Regions from separate parts of the Homo sapiens genome. Here region 1 is linked to region 2. The links come from fine-mapping of genetic effects on gene expression. A gene starts in region 2. The other region holds a variant in brackets. All regions are shown on one strand. Distances are from middle to middle.

What was found. PIP is the estimated chance that this variant, and not a neighbour inherited with it, causes the effect. A credible set is the group of variants that fine-mapping cannot tell apart.
Region 1: its variant is the best candidate, but not a certain one, in a credible set for the expression of LINC00836 in cerebellar hemisphere (GTEx, PIP 0.53).

What each region holds. Positions count from the first base shown.
Region 1 is chr10:25,532,353-25,541,068 of GRCh38, forward strand. All of the region lies in intron 5 of GPR158 (G protein-coupled receptor 158), which reads left to right. Among named protein-coding and RNA genes, the nearest start is that of LINC00836, 120 kb to the right of the region's middle. The variant A/G (reference allele first, on the strand shown) is at 4,713.
Region 2 is chr10:25,646,722-25,655,437 of GRCh38, forward strand. It overlaps LINC00836 (long intergenic non-protein coding RNA 836), which reads left to right and starts at 4,991. Exons shown (of 3, transcript NR_108068.1): 1 at 4,991-5,078. It also overlaps the pseudogene GPN3P1.

The sequences.
Region 1 (8,716 bases), 110 kb before region 2:
CTGTTCTTGGCTGTAAAAAAGCTTTTGCCTCTATCATTTAATTCTATATTGTGTCTCATCATCATTTTTTCATGTTTCTTCTCAAAATACCATACCTCAACTCTTTTCCTGTGAATTCTTCTGCATTTTTGTTTCTTTGTTGAGGTCTGGAGTTCTTAAGATTCTCTTGCTTCTCCTTGGGTCGTTTTCTGTATCTTTCCACCTCCACATAAAGTCACCATATAGATATTACATATGATACTTTCTCCACTTTGCTCTCTGATCCCCAGTGTGTAGAAAACACCCTCCATTCCCCATTTTAAGAGCCAGGCATTTATGCAATGACCTAACCAGAAATCCTTTTATGCATTGTTTCGTTCCTTTATTACAAAAGTGACACATTTGTTGTAAAAAAAAAAAAATACCAAAGCATATAACTTAAAGAGTAAAATCTCCTTTTGCCCCTTGCGTTCTCATTCCCAGCCAACCTATTCAGAGATAGTCTTCATGGTCTATTGAATGTGCATCTACATATTCCTTTTGATGTAGATACAAACAGAAGCATATGCTATTACTGTTCTGCAGCTTTCTTTTTATTTAACAATTTATCTTAAAGGTGTTTTCATAGCAACAGAATCAGATCCGCTTAATTCCCTTAATGCATGGTTTTCCACTGAATGGCTGTAACTTTAATTACCATAGTGAACCTGTCCCCTACTAGTGGAGAATGTTTTCAGTGTTTTTTGTCTTGCAAAAAATGCTTTAGTGAATATTCTTGCATATATATTTCTGCTATTTCTTATGGATGTTTATGTAGGGCAGTTTTCTAGAAATAGAATTCTCGCTGCACTGTAGTAGTTCTTAGACATTTTCCATCCCCAGCCTTAATCTGAGCTTTAGCTATCCCAATTCCACACGTGGCTTGCTTCTGGGCTGTGGACTAGTATTAGCAGCCCTTAGTCCTTGTCAAATTAAAACCACCTGTTAACCTTAAGAAAAAAATCATTCAGTCTCTGCCCTCAATTTACTGAATCAGTTTCTACAAGAAAAACCTGGACTTATATATATTTTAAACCATTATAGTTGGTTCTGGTGTTCAATCAGGGTGGAAGACCAATACACTGGTTCCTGGCTTCCACTCTTTCTCATGACTATGGCTGTATCTTCTCTCTCAGTAGTTTAATCTCTGTGATGTCCCTCTGCTTTCACAATTTTTCTACATGAATTATTCGGTTTAAAACATTCATTTTACCATTTGTTAACTTCATTCTTTATATATTTCATTTATTTTCCTTGGAAGTTATTTTTACCTTGTCGGCAGTGTTCAGTTCAACCCTGCCTTGTTCACTTCATTGAACAAATTGGTCAACATTTTATAGCACCAGGCATTCTAAAACATCCAGCCTCCATCAAAGATCACTAATTTTAATCTTTCTACTCTGTCCTTCCTTTGTAAAGGTAAGGTGTATTGCATAGCAATAATGAGCTCAGACTCCAGACCCCAGCTGAGTTTAAACCCAGCTCTGCCACTTACCAGCTATGTGACCTGGGGCAAATTCCTTAACTTTGCCTCAGCTTCCCCATATGTAAAGTGGGAGTAATAATAATGCCTACATCACAGTATTGTTGTAAGAAATAAACAAGTTATTTTATGTAGGGCACTTAAAAAGTAACTGGAATATAACATGAATTCATTAGATGTTGTTATTACCCCTCACCAAAAAGATAATGAGATAGACTCTGAGTTGCTTCCTTCTCTCCTGGGCCAGCTTTCAGCTTTCTTTGACATCTTCATCTGGTTATGCTTTGGCACATGCTTTTCTTCTCTATAATTATGTTGATATCTATCATCTGTTGTCATTCTTACTGAGATTCTTTTTTGGCCTTGAGTGTTTTTACAGTCATTTAGGGTTTCCAAAAGTAGCAGACATAAACATGTTCAATCTGCCAGGTTTTACCTGACATCTTCATTCTTCCTTAGTTACAATTTAAACATAGACATATGTACTTTTAAAGATCTGAATTAGGCCAGGCGCGGTATCTCATGCCTGTAATCCCAGCACTTTGGGAGGCTGAGGCAGGCAGATTACTTGAGGTCAGTTCGAGACCACCCTGGCTAACGTGATAAAACCCCGTCTGTACTAAAAATGCAAAAAACAAAACAAAACAAAACAAAACAAAAACAGATTACTTGAGATCAGGAGTTTGAGACCATCCTGGCTAACATGGTACAACCCCGTCTCTACTAAAAATGCAAAAAAAAAAAAAAAAAATTAGCTGGGTGTGGTGGCACGTATCTGTAATCTCAACTATTTGGGAAGCTAACACAGGAGAATCGCTTGAACCCAAGAGGTGGAGGTTGCAGCGAGCCAACATTGTGCCACTGCACTTCAGCCTGCGTGACAGAGCAAGAAGTGACAGAGCAAGACTCCATCTCAAAAAGTTAGATAGACAGATAGACAGACAGACAGGGATCCGAATTACATCTCCCACCTCAACATGACCATACCATTTTTCTTACTGTTTAAAACATTACAATAAAAAAGTCACTTCTCAGCAGTTCTTAGTCATGAGCTATGTGTAGTCATTTCTCAGCAGTTCTTAGTCAAGAATCATGATCCTGAAGATGGGTTAGACTCTGTTGGAGAAGGCAGCCTTACTGGATTTCTTTTCTTGCTTTCAAAAATTTCTCCTTTAAAGTAGTTTTTCACATTATTCTTTCTCTAAATGCATACTCTGGGGATCTCATAGCTTTGTAGTCTATATTCCTCTTACATCATTTGCTTTGAACCCAGGTAGATAACAGCATTTCTGATGATATAAAAGTAGTCTCTTTTTGTGGTAAATAACTAATAGCTCCAATGTTCCCTACCTCCTGGTAATCATGGCCTATGTAATTCTCACCCCTTGACTAATTAGTTTCTAATCAATCAAACAGATTAACATTGAAAGAATGTGACTTCCACAATGAGGTTAAAAAAATTACAACTTTCATCTTGCTAGAAGACTCTCTCTTGCTGGCTTTGATGAAGCATGCGCCATATTGGAGTGGCCCACATGGCAAGGAACTGAGAATGGCCTCCAACCCACAGCCAGCAAGGACAAAGGGCCTCAGTTCCTCTAGCCCTCAGGGAGGCAAATGCTGACAACAGCAGCATGGGCTTGGAAGTGTATCCTTCTCCAGTTTAGCCTTCAGATGGAACCCCAGACCTGAGTAATGGCTTGATTACAGATGTGTGAGTAACCCTAAGGCTGGCAGTGCCTGGATGAATGACCCACTGAAACTGTGAGATAAGAAATGAGTATTGTTTTAAGCCAGCCACTAAGTTTGTGGTATTTGTTATATACAAGTAGATAATGAATGCACCTTGATTGTCCTGGTTTTATCCATCATATTAATAGTTCTGACTCTGCTTCGACAAAGCTCAGTTTGCCTAGTCTGCTTCTTTCCTCTTCTCTCTATACCCCATTCTCAACTCCACACTATTCAGAAGCTTCTTTTCTGTCCTTATTTGAAGATACATTTAGAATAAGACTAAATAGATTGTTGATTCAAATGTGACAAATATCAAAAGTAATCCTCATATGTTAGTAATAAAACTGGCATTTCTCCATTGTTTTGTACTGTTTTAAGTGCATCCACACTGTGTCCCCACTAAACTGTTGAGGAAAGTGAGGCCCAGAGAAATTAAGGAATTTGTCCCAGGTTATATTTCTCATTGGTGGTAAAGCCTAGCCTGGCATTTAGGGCAATTAACACCAAATTCCTTGTTTTACCCACTGCATTAGGCTGCAGCTCCTTTCCACCTGACTAGTAGGTAGCTCATATATTTGTATTATTTTACAAATAAAAGTCTTCAATTTTTATTGAAGAATATTTAATTCTTTAATATTAAAGATATTAATTTCTTTATTAAAGAAAATTCATTTGTAAAATAATGCAAATATATTTTACATTATTTGTTATATTAAATCTCCAGCCTCCTTTACATATAGTGGTTTTACTGAAGCTAATTAAGTATTTCCAAGTGTGTGTATTTTATTTTGCTCTAAACCAGGCATATTATTTGGCCAGTAATGAAAACAAATCTTTCTGAGATGTGTGCTACAAGTATTTTGTATTCTGAATGAAGAAGTGTAAAGTCTCCAGTTTCTAATGGCCTTCGTTAACATCCCATTTACCAACTCTTGTACTGTTTTTGTCCTTTATAAAAGAAAATTCCTGAATCAGTAAATCATTGATCATATTCAGAGTTCATTTGTTTCTGCATTTGTCCATTTCTTGAGAAATATATTTTTAACCTCTCTGCCAAATATCTTAGCTGATAAACTGCATCTTTTTTTTAGTCATATTTTAGGAGATGATTCAAAAGATTTAACTTTATCTTTCCATTATATGCACAGATTAAACTGAAAGATTCAGTTATCTTGGGCTGGCAGGCTTCACTTTCTGGGTTTTGCCCAGTTCAGCCAACCCATGCTACTCTAACTGTGGTCCTAGGAGCAGCAGGATTAGCATCCCGAGGGGCTTGTCAGAAATGCATCATCTTGGGCCTCACCACAAACCTACTGAAGCACACTTTGCATTTTGGCAAGCTCTCCAGATGATCGTATGCACGTGAAGATGTGAGAAACACTGTTCTAAGCCCCTTTTATGGCAGAGTCCTAAGTGGTCCAGCTCACCCAGTGGCACCACTTCCAGGCTAAACTCCACCTGTGTCTCAAGTCACTTT[A/G]TTGTCATCTGCCAGAAAATGATTGTAATCAATCTAAAGTAGACAATGCATTCAAGATGTTCTTGCTAGTTGTGTAATGCACAGACTGCATACTCATGCAGAGGCCCTCCCTTACTGTATAGTCTTTCCAACCAAAACAAAGTAATTCCCAGGAATTATTCTATTGAACTATCCATTTTTCCATTATTTCTGAGGACTCTTAATTCATTTAGCTCTTTCAGCCTTAATATAGTAATATGATACCTAATAAGATTATCTTATTTCTAAAGCATAAGACCATATACTTCTTTGACTGTATCATGACATAAATATGTTATTTACCATTTACTAAGCACCTGTAACAGATATTGGAGTAGTTTCTTATTTTAAATTAACTTTTTTCTGATTACAGAACATGTGTAAGATACTGAGACTTGAAAGCATGTCTAATACTAAAACCAGAGAATCTCTGTCAACATTGTTTACTTTGTGTGTTATGTATATACACACATACAATTTTATATATATTTATATTATTGAAAATTAACCTTTTCTCAATACACATTTACAGTAAGGATTTGAACTGGAGCTTAACTGCCTGATATGGCCTGGATTTGTGTCCCCGCCCAAATCTCATGTGGAATTGTAATCCCCAGTGTTGGAGGAGGGGCCTGGTGGGAGGTGACTGGATATGGGGGTGGATTTCCCCCTTGCCATTCTCATGATAGTGAGTTCTCATAAGATCAGGTTGTTTAAAAGTGTGTAGCACCTCCTCTTTCACTCCCTTCCTCCTCTGCCATGTAAGATGTGCCTGCTTCCCCTTCACCTTCTATGGTGATTGTAAGTTTCCTGAAGCCTCCCCAGCCATGCTTCCTGTAGAGCCTGCGGAACTGTGAGCCAATTAAACCTCTCTTCTTTTTAAATTACCCAATTTCAGGTATTTCTTTATAGTGGTGCAAGAACAGACTAATACACTGTCCATTTTAGAAAAGATCAATCTTTTCAAAACAATACAAAATGAAAAAAATTTTTACCATAATACTTTGATCACAGTACTCAACATTCTGCTCACTAGTGTGTGTTTTTCTCTCAGAGGCACATGCAGTTTGCTCATAAGGATATCAGGAGAGAAAACAAGAAGCCAAATCAGAGCCAAAGCTTCAGATTTGCCGTTGTTGTTGTTGTTGTTGTTTTGCTTTTTTGGCAATTATAGAGAACAGATATTTTAGATGAATATCTTTTTTTTAAATTATACTTTAAGTTCTAGGGAACAGACATTCCAGGATATTTTCCCCATTAGCTTTTATGCATAGCTCCTTATGCCTTGTTTTATAGAATAAATTAAGGATGTTCAATTCAGGGTAATAAACAGGGGACAAGTGTGCTTTCATTTCTCTGTGTATGTTTCTATGTATGTACATATATATACACACAAATGTTTTGTTGTTGTTGTTAAGAGATGGGTTTTCACTATACTGCCCAGACTGGAGTGCGATGGTTATTCATAGGTGTGATTATCACACATTATAGCCTCGAACTCCTGGCCGTAAGTGATCCTTCTGCCTCATGTGATCTTCCTGCCCAGCTTCCCAAGCAGCTGGGACTGCAGGCATGTGTCACGGTGCCTGGCTACACATAAATGTTGAGCATAACTGCTATCACACTGTATATTTTATATACATTTTAGGTGCTGCTTATTTTTTCACTAAACATAAATCCTGAGAGCTTTCCCATATTTTTTATTTTTGAGGACATGATTATTAAGGATGGTATAAACTTCTGTCTTAAGTCACGCATCGTAATTTATTCTTGGCCAAAACGGTATCTATTTTGAACACATACACGGAGAAGTTGTGAAAGTTTAGAGCAAAAATAGTCATATGTTTCTTTGTTTATTATGTGTATTAGAATGGGCTGTTTCCATGAAGCGCCTCTTCTCATAGAGAGATGGGAAAACCGAGACCAGGGAGGGCACCTGGACTTTCCATTGTGTGCCCTCCCAGCACGCTGGTTTTCTGCATCTTGCTGTGCTTTTCCTTGAGCCGCTAAATGTCACATTTATGAATGTAGTGCTGCATCCTGGGTGTTCTAACCTATGCATGGATGGAGATGAGAGGTGCTGCTAGGGGAGGAGCAGTATTGGACTGGGAGGCTCCAAGACTGGCTTATGTGTAATAAAGCTGCTGCCTAGTTGGGGCATGACCAAGGATTTTTTAAATTTGATCTTCTGTTTAGCAAAAAGCTATGGGTCTCAGAGTTAGAAGACCCCAATGAGGAGGAGTATGAATGAAAATCTTTCCTTGTTATGTGTGGGGGGTTTAGATCTTATTCTGGTTCAGAGAATGAGGCCTGTGGTGTTTTATTTAAAAGGTACTTCTTTATTGGATAAGATCTACCAAGCTGTGAGTAGAATCACCACTAAGACTTTGGGAACTTGTCCTCTTTGCCCTTGGTTTTTAGACCTGTAACCCCTTTTAATTTTTTTTTTTTTTTGGACATTTTCAGGTGTATTCTATGGGAATTTTGGAGAGGATGTATTGGGGTACAGCATAGCATCTGCTGCCACATTAACCCCCAAATCTTGTATATTTTATAATTTTTAAAATGTTACTTCTGTATTACTATGGAAGCTATTCAATTTTTGTTGTTTTGGGGTAATAGGAGCCAAATATTAAGTTCTAGACCATGGTTGTATAAAGACACATAATCACAATTATAGCCATTCTCATGTATGTGGTAATTGTATAAATGTAAAGCTGCATTAGGTACTTTTGTTATTTTGAATCCAAAATTACTATGGAATCAAAAATGAACCTATAGTAAGATTTGAAGGACATGCATTTTTATCACTAAATAAGTCCCACGTATGGAAGCACATCTCTTGCCAAATATAGAAAAATATAAGAATTTTAGTTTAATTAGATCCTCTGCACAGCAAAAGAAACTACCATCAGAGTGAACAGGCAACCTACAGAATGGGAGAAAATTTTCGCAACCTACTCATCTGACAAAGGGCTAATATCCAGAATCTACAAAGAACTCAAACAAATTTACAAGAAAGAAACAACCCCATCAATAAGTGGGCGAAGGATATGAACAGACACTTCTCAAAAGAAGACATTTATGCAGCCAAAAGACACATGAAAAAATGCTCATCATCACTGGCCATCAGAGAAATGCAAATCAAAACCACAATGAGATACCATCTCATACCAGTTAGAATGGTGATCATTAAAAAGTCAGGAAACAACAGGTGCTGGAGAGGACATGGAGAAATAGGAACACTTTTACACTGTTGGTGGGACTATAAACTAGTTCAACCATTGTGGAAGACAGTGTGGTGATTCCTCAGGGATCTAAACTAGAAATACCATTTGACCCAGCCATCCCATTACTGGGTATACACCCAAAGGATTATAAATCACGCTGCTGTAAAGACACATGCATACGTATGTTTATTGTGGCACTATTCACAATAGCAAAGACTTGGAACCAACCCAAATGTCCAACAATGATAGACTGGATTAAGAAAATGTGGCACATATACACCATGGAATACTATGCAGCCATAAAAAAGGATGAGTTCATGTCCTTTGTAGGGACATGGATGAAGCTGGAAACCATCATTCTCAGCAAACTATCACAAGGACAAAAAACCAAACACCACATGTTCTCACTCATAGGTGGGAATTGAACAATGAGAACACTTGGACACAGGAAGGGGAACATCACACACCGGGGCCTGTCGTGGGGTGGGGGGAGTGGGGAGGGATAGCATTAAGAGATATACCTAATATAAATGACGAGTTAATGGGTGCAGCACACCAACATGGCACATGTATACATATGTAACAAACCTGCACATTGTGTACATGTACCCTAGAACTTAAAGTATAATAAAAATATATATATATATATATATATATATATATATAAAGTTTATCTAAAACCTACACCTACATGAAATAGCTAGGTATAGACCATGTGTACAATTTGAATTTAAAAGTTTTTTCCACAAGGAATGT
Region 2 (8,716 bases):
CAGATAAGTTATTAATTGCAGTGTTTTTATAGCCTCCGCATTCTCTCCACTGATGATTCTCTTAACCTTTCCAATTACAAAAACGATCCAATAAGTATCCTAGTTTAATTAGAAAATATGTGCTCAAATCCTTATATTTTTGGCAGATTGCATTCACCACTCAGAAATTAATGTCCAGGGAAAGTGTCTTTCCAATATTTCAGGTGTACTCTGGATCAGTAAAGATATTGATACTTTCTAGATATTGTAAAGCAGAAAATAGATATTAGCATAAAATGAGCAATGTAGAATGCCTTTTAAATTGAATAGGTACTTTTTTCTGTTAAATCAGGAAAGACCTTAAAATTATATTCCCTTTTAAATTTTTTAATTATATAAATAATACATTTTCAATGTAGGGAAATGGTAAGATATAGATGGGCAGTGGTCTTACCTATATCCTTCCAGATATTTCCCTCTGGATAGACATGTATATTTTGTTACAATAATTCCTGCACCTCAAAAACAATACAAACAGTAAAAATGAGATTGTATTAGCCTTATTAACTGTTGCAGAGGTGCTAATTTATATACAATTCTATGTGCATTCATTTCAATTTTGACTTTTAAATTTAAATTGATACGATCAAAATAATACTACAAGTTTCCACGTGAAGCAGCAGCAGTTTCAGAATAATTCAAAACTTGATTCAGGCATGCTGCTGATAAAAAAAAAAAAAAAACATGTACCTTTTTTTTCATTAGAATATGCAGCTTTCTACTACTGCATTCTTCGAAGAGAAGAATATTCTGCCGGTTTGGCCACAAGCTCTTCACGTATAGACAGTTACTCCTTAGTAAACTCTTCATTCATCCTGGTGTTCTTGAAAATATTCCTCAAACATAGAAGAAGATTCATTTTCATATTCCTTTGGTTATTTAAATGTTGAATCTTCTCCACATTGAATGGCTAAATCAATATGCTATAATACAATGTTCATACTTTCTTCATCTGACTGATCATAAGGTAAGAAGAGAACTATGCTGCAGTCATCAGCCCACATACAACTTTAGTTACTTTTTTGAATTCTTTGCTTCTTAAGCCACTTGTAGAATCATCAAATAAGGAATCCATGTCTAGATCTAGAAACTTACAGTTTCCTTTTTAGCTTTTTTACTCTGCAGCTACATTTTGATCACGATGTTAACTTGCGGAATTTATAGAGAGAGCATGGCACTCAGGACTGCCAAGATGCCAGAAATACACTTGAATGACTCCACCATGAACTGAGGATCAACAAGAAAAACTCCATAGACTCGGAAACTCCACTGCTCGAGCTGCAGGACCAGCTGCTTCATCACAGTCAGGTGAATGTACAACTCAGTCCAAGCTGGACAATCAAAGCTGGCAAGGGTATTACCAATTACTAATGGGATTGTAATTGTCCTAGTCCTTTTGAAAGCAATTAAACAATATGAATCAAAAGCAATACAAAGGTTCATACCTTTTACACACCTTTATGCTCTATTTATGAAATTATAGACTAACCAAATGTTCCAAAAATATGGAAAAATTATATGCATGAAGCAGCACCTCGGATCATTATTCATAACCGTAAAGTATTGGAAAAAACCTACAGCGCCAACAATAGAAAAGTGAAAAATGAAATTACAGAGCATCCACTCAAATATTGTCAAGCCTTTTTAAAATTATGGTTATAAAGACTGTGCAAAGGCATGAATAATGCTCATGACATATTAAATAGTGACTCAAGCTTTATAATTATTTGTCTAATGATTTCAATAAAATATAAAAAGAGAATACTCACTATTACTAAGACCGACTGTCTAAACTAGGTTGCAATTTTTAATCAAGAGAGTGGCAGACAGAGTATATGTGTGATATGGTTTGTATCTGTGTCCCCACCAAATCTTGTGTCCCTATAATCCCCAGTGTTGGAGGTGGGGCCTGGTGGAAGGTGACTGGATCATGGGGGTGGATCCTTCATATATGGTTTGGCACCATCCCTTGGGTGCTGTTCTCATGACAGAGTTCTCACAAGATCTGGTTGTTTAAAATTCTGTGTCACCTGCCTAGCCTGCCACTCCACCTCTTCTTGCTCCTGCTCTGGCCATGTAAGATGTGCCTGCTTCCCCTTCACCTTCTGCCATAATCGTAAGTTTCCTAAGGCCTCCCAAGAAGCAGATGCTGCCATACTTCCTGTATAACCTACAGAACTGTGAGTCAATTAAACATCTTTTCTTTATAAATTACTCAGTCTCAGGTATTTCTTTATGGCAGTGCAAGAACAGACGAATGCAATGTGCATAGACTTTTCCAAGACCTTGGAATGTATTATGTGAAGGCATATTATTAGTCAGCGAAGTAGAACCACTAGAAGTAATATAGATTAAAGGATTTGTTATAGGGGTTAGATTTTTACAAAACTATGTTGCTGGTGGAGAAGTCTGTGCAAGGCTGTTGTCTCTGTGTCTGATGTTGAACCTGAAGTCACTATAGAATAGCCAGCCAGCAATTGGTAGGAAAGCCTGAGTAGATGAGGGCAAGGACATACTAGAAGCTGAAAGGACAAGCGAGTGCTTGAGGACAAACTTGACCCAAGTCCCTTGGCTTGGGCTTTCTGTCACTTGCAATCTAAGGAGTTCTAACTGATAAAAGTAGATCAGTCTTGGCCTTGGAATAATAAGTCTGATTATGTTATAGAAACTTCACTATGACTCCACCTAGCATTAAAACCCATGGAGCTGAGTGACTGACAACCCCTTCCAGAGACCAAATGGGCAGAATCTGGGAAAAACTGGGAAGACCAAAGGAATTAAAGACTGCAGCATGGAGGAGAAAGCAAGAATAGGAACCTTGAAAAGTGGCAATTTAGTAACCTTGAGGCTCTAGATCGAAGACTCTTCATGGCCATCGAGAAACCTGGAATCTGCTGAATGGAGTGTAGAAGTCACTCTCTAATCTCCACCTTCTATGCGTTCTCTGTGGGTTAGCAAGTAGAATGGAAACTTAACCCTTGGTGAAAAGCTGCTTTGTGCATTCTTCTAGACTCTATCTGTGTTTTTGGCCCACGAGGATAGGCATGGTACTGGGGTAAAACATTGTGGTGACAACTAAGGCTAAGTGTTGACTGATACAGCCATTACCTACTGCAGTGTACATGCCTCCAATTTACATTTGTTTGAAAATTCCTATATAAAGAAACTAAGTAAACAAAGCACAGGTCTTGATAAATTCACAGTTGTGTGTCTATACTGCCTTCATATCCAGTTGAAAAATGGTCAACACATCATAAATGATTTCATGCTGGACACAGTAGCTCATGTCCATAATCCCAGCACTTAGGGAGGCTGAGGTGGGACGATTACTTGAAGCCAGGTGTTTAAGATCATCCTGGGCAATAGAGGCTGATCTCTGTCTGTACAAAAAATAAAAAATTAGCTGAGCATGGTGGTGCACACCTACAGTCCCAGCTCTTGGGAGGGTGAAGCAGGAGGATCTCTAGAACCCAGGAGTCGAAGGCTGCAGTGAGCTATGATTGTGCTACTACACTGCAGCCTGGGCAACAGAGCTAGGCTCTGTCTCTAAAAATAAAAAAATAAAATAAATTTAAAAAGAAAGGAAGAAGAAGAAAAAGAAAAAATGATGTAGCAGAATTTTCCCTGCCAAATCCACCAGTTAATAACCTATTGTTATATCTTGAAAGTTATGTTGGGATTATTTCCTTCTGAAATGGACTTCCTTCCATTCCACCTTCTATCCCTGTGTATTTTTGTTCACCAAGACTCTTATGAGAAAATTCTACTACAAATATGCCATTGTTGGGGAGAGAAAAGCTTTCACCTCAGACTCTCTAAAACACCGGCTTATGTCTGCCCACCCCTCTGAGAAGTAAACATGATTTGTAAATAAAAGCCACCCTGGGGCTCACATGAGATCAAAATTTATCTCCACAGTTTTCATGTTATGTTATTATCCTAATGTTGCCTTAAGACTCTCAAAAATAACACTTTAAAAGATCCACATTTCTCATATCTAAAGGAAGTTTGTTATTCCTTTGTTTGCACCCTACCTTGTTAGAAAAAGGATTGGAGGAAGCTTTCTGTGATACAAAAGATAGAAAGAAAGAAGGGAAGAAAGAAAGAAAGAAAGAAAGAAAGAAAGAAAGAAAGAAAGAAAGAAAGAAAGAAAGAAAGAAAGAGAAGGAAGGAAGGAAAGAAAGAGAAAGGGAAAGAGAGAGAGGGAGAGAGAGAGAAAGAAAAAGGAAGGAAGGGAGAGAGAGAAAGAAAGAAAAAAGGAAGGAGGGAAGGAAAGAAAGAAAGAAAGAAAGAAAGAAAGAAAGAAAGAAAGAAAGAAAGAAAGAGAGAGAGAAAGAAAGAAAGAAAAAGAAAGAAAGAAAGAAAAGAAAAGAAAGAAAAAGAAAGAAAGAAAGAGAAAAAGGATCAGATCAGGTCAGAGAAAAAACAATGGTTAAAAAAATAACTTGTCACTAGGGTAAGAATAACATGCATAATGCATTTTTTAATGTCCTGATAAACTGAGCTGTATATTTGTTTCATAACTCCCCAGCTTCCACAGCAAAAATAGAGAACTGATAATTATCACTATTTTTATTCTTTATGGTTGCTCAGGGGGAAAATTTTTAAAGGGGACATTACTGGAATAAGGTTACCCTTCTGTCACTCACATTTGATTACTCATAGACTTTTCTATTTGAAGACGCATTAAGGAAAATTTTCCTTGCAAACAAATGTTGTCAAATGAATTGACCAACATGCATACCTGCCAAGTGCCCAGCATCCTCAAGTACCTATAGGACATTAACTCCAGTAGCCTGTGTAGCAAAGTAGAATAAAAATAAAGTTACTGGGAATTCAGGATTGATAATATCTCTGATTTGTATATTTCTGCAGCAGTCAGTCTCTTTCAAAATATGGGAACAGCAAGTTAAAATAAACTGTCTTATTGGCAGAACAGAGTGTGATCATGAGATACTATTCAGCTTTTATGCTGATTCATCAGCTCACAGTGAAACGAGCTTGCATGAGAGCATCCCAGGACCACTGAACATTCAGAGGTATGTCCTCGCATCTTAATTTTTTTAAGGTAAAATGAGATTTTCATAGAATAAGGATACAGCTGATAAATAGCAAGTCTAAAATTACATATACACTAGCCTACATTTAAGAATATCTTGGCTAATTATTCCTAAGTCATTGATGTTTTTGTTTGTCTTTGTTTTTTACTATTTATTTCCTTTGCTTTACAGCTTTATTGAGTCATAATTGATGTAAATAAACCATCCATATTTAAAGTGTATTATTGATGAGTTTTTACATAATATACTTCCATGAAACCATCTTCAGTCAATGTAATGAAACTTTATATCACTCTCAGAACTTTCTCTTACCTCTTTCACACTCTAATTATTGTTTTTAACCTGCCTGTTCCTATTATATAGCAAATAATTTGCTTTTTAGAATCAAGATCATTATGATGCAATGAATATTTATCATTTGCTCTTTTGAACTGTGTTTGATGATTCTGTGACTTTTGTAGGTATCACAAAAGGGATTTACTTTCATGCAGAAAACTTAGGCTCAGCAAATGAATCCATATTTACGAATTTATGATGGGCTGAAATGGTAGGAAGAACTGGCCAGTCAATCTTGGACAAGAGTAGAACATTTAAAATGAAGTGGAGGTGATGGTAATGGGGGTGGGGTTGTACCACTTCAGTATAAGGAAACTGCAAAGAAAAAAAAACCCACCTGATTACTATGGCGGGGGTCGGTTCATCATTACATCATGAAAGGGGCAAATAGTTTAGAATATGCTAGGGGCTGGTGAAGAATTAAAGAAAAAAAGAGGGAAGAATGAAAGGGGGTAAGGGAAGAAGGGGAAAAGGGAAGGAACAAATAAGATATTAAGAGTAAAGGGAAAAAGACAAACAGAGAATACTGCAGTAGGGCTTTGAGCTAAAAGACATACAGTGACTTTTGTGATAAAGAAACCAAAGAAGGTCGTGAAATGGGTATCCAAAAAAAAAAAAAAAACGGGCAGCCTGTGGCGCTGCGGCTGGATAAAGAACATCAGGGACAGGAAGGCTGTAATAAGATTCCACCACCATCTCTGCCCATCACTAGGGCTGGAGGCAGAGAAAAACTTCCCCTACTCAAGAAAAAGAAGCTATTTTTGTCAAGTTAAATGAGCCTGAACCTGCAGAGCTGAATTGGCAGATGAATATTGCTAATTGGTGCAGTTTCTTCGGTGCAGGAAAGAGTTTCCAATCAGACCGGCAATTCATTGGCCACATGAAGGTAATTTATTAATAAAAATGAACTGAAGTTTCAGAATCCTTGATAATGATGAGCTCATGGTCCTTCACCTCCCTTCCCTTCCCTAGAAAGAACACCCTACAACAATGATGCCTCAGTGATATCTTCTCCAGCCCATTCCATATGTGGCAACATTTCAAGTGGTTTTTTTTTTTATTAGGAATTTCTACATTTAGTTGTCAAATCAAGCTGCTCTAAATGCCTAATTCTGATTCTCCCTTCATCAACAGACTTTTTGAGGAGTTCCTGATTCAAAGTAACCAGGAAAGTCTGCTAACTGCAGCTTAATTCTGAAAAGTGAAGGGGAAAACAAAACAGGAGAAACAGTCTCCCTTTAAAAAAAAATTAACTTTATTTTTCAGTTTAATAAATTTGACAAATGTATCCTCCTATGTAACCATAACCACATTAAGACATGGAGAATTGACCTCACCCCAAAGAATTCTGGTTTCCTTTGCAGTAACCACTCTCCCCAGCCCTGGTCATAGACAGCCATTGGTCTCCTTTCTGTCATTGTAGATTAGTATTGCCTTTTCTAGAATTCCATATAAATGAAGTTATCTGATGGCTTTTTAAAAAGTCAGTTGAACGTTTTTTGAGATTCAATCTGTGTTGCTGTACATCATTAGTCCATGCTTTTCATGGCTGAGTAGTATTCTATTATATAAACGTACTCCAATATGTGTATCCATGGGCATTTGGGTTGTTTCTGTTTTAGCCCATTAAAAATCAGATGGCTATGGGTATTAGTGTCCACGTATTTGTGTGGACATATGTTCTCATTTCTCTTGGGTAAATGCCTGGGGGTGGGATTGCTGTGTCATATAGTAAGTGTATTTTTAACTTTATAAGAAACCATCAGCTGTTTTCCAAACTGACTGTACCACTTTACATTTCCATCAGTAATGCCTGAGATTTCTAGTTGCTCCAAACCAGAGCCACTGAAATGGGTATAAAGTGGTATCTCATTGTTTTAATCACATTTTCCTAATGACTAGTAATGTTAAGTGTTTTTTCATGTGTTTATTGGCCATTCGTGAATTTCTTTTTGTGAAATGTTTGCAAAATCTTATGCCCATTTTTAAAAATAGGGCCATTTTGTAACTGTCCAATGGGTTCTCCTTGCCTGCTGCCCAAGTAAAGGTGATTTATCAAGGAGTTTATCCTTTGCATGCCCAGGTAAAGGAATTGCAGTAGAGAGGGCTTAATTCACTCAGAGCCACCTGAATGGGAGACTGGAGTTTTACTACTCAAATCAGTCTCCCTGAAAATTTTGAGACCGGGGTTTTTAAAGGATAATTTGGCAGACAGGAGGCCAGGGACTGGAGAGTGCTGATTGGTTAGGTCAGAGATGAAATCACAGGGGATCGAAGTGGGTTTTTCTTGTTGTCTTCTGTTCCTGGGTGGGATTGCAGAACTGGTAGAGCCAGATTACTGGTCTGGGTGCTAGCTGGTGGATCAGAATGCAGGGTCTGGAAAATATCTCGAGCACCAGTCTTAGGTTTTACAATAGTGATCTTATCCCTAGGAGCAATTGGGGAGGTTCAGCATCTTGTGGCCTCTGGCTGTATGACTCCAGAACATAATTTCTAATCTTGTGGCTAATATATTACTCCTATAAAGGCAGTCTGGTCCCCAGGCAAGATGGGAGTTGATTTTGGGAAAGGGCTGTTATCTTTGTTTCAAAGTTAAACTATAAACTAAGTTCCTTCCAAAGTTAGTTCAGCCTATGACCAGGAATGAACAAGGGCAGCTTGGAGTTTAGAAGCTAGATGGAATCAGGTTAGATTTCTCTCAGCGTCATAATTTTCTCACTGTTATAATTTTTACAAAGGTAGTTTCAATTGGTCTTATTATTGAGTTGTGAGAGTTCTTTATATATTATATATTATATATTATTTCTTTTTTTTTTTTTTTTGAGTCAGGGTCTTGCTCTCTCACCCAGGCTAGAGTACAGTGGTGCAATCATGGCTCACTGCAGCCTCAAACTCCGGAGCTCAAGGGTTCCTCCCACCTCAGCCTCCTGAAGTGTTAGAGTTACAGGCATGAACCATGGTGCTTGGACAATATATTCTTTGGTCTCTTTCATGTAACTGAATTTAAAATTTTGATGAAGTTCAGTTTCTCCATTTTTTGTAGTTTGTCCTTTGTGTGGCCTGAAAAGCTTTGCCTACCCCATAATTGTGAAGATCATTGTCTATAATTTCTTTTAGAAGTTTTATGGTTTCAGCTTTTAAACTTAGACCTATACTCCATTCTGAGTAAATTTTTGCATGTGACATGAGGAACTCATTGAGGTTCTTTTTATTTAATCAATGTCTATTCAATTATTTGGGCACTGTTTATTGGAAAGACCATCCTAACTGAATTACCTTGC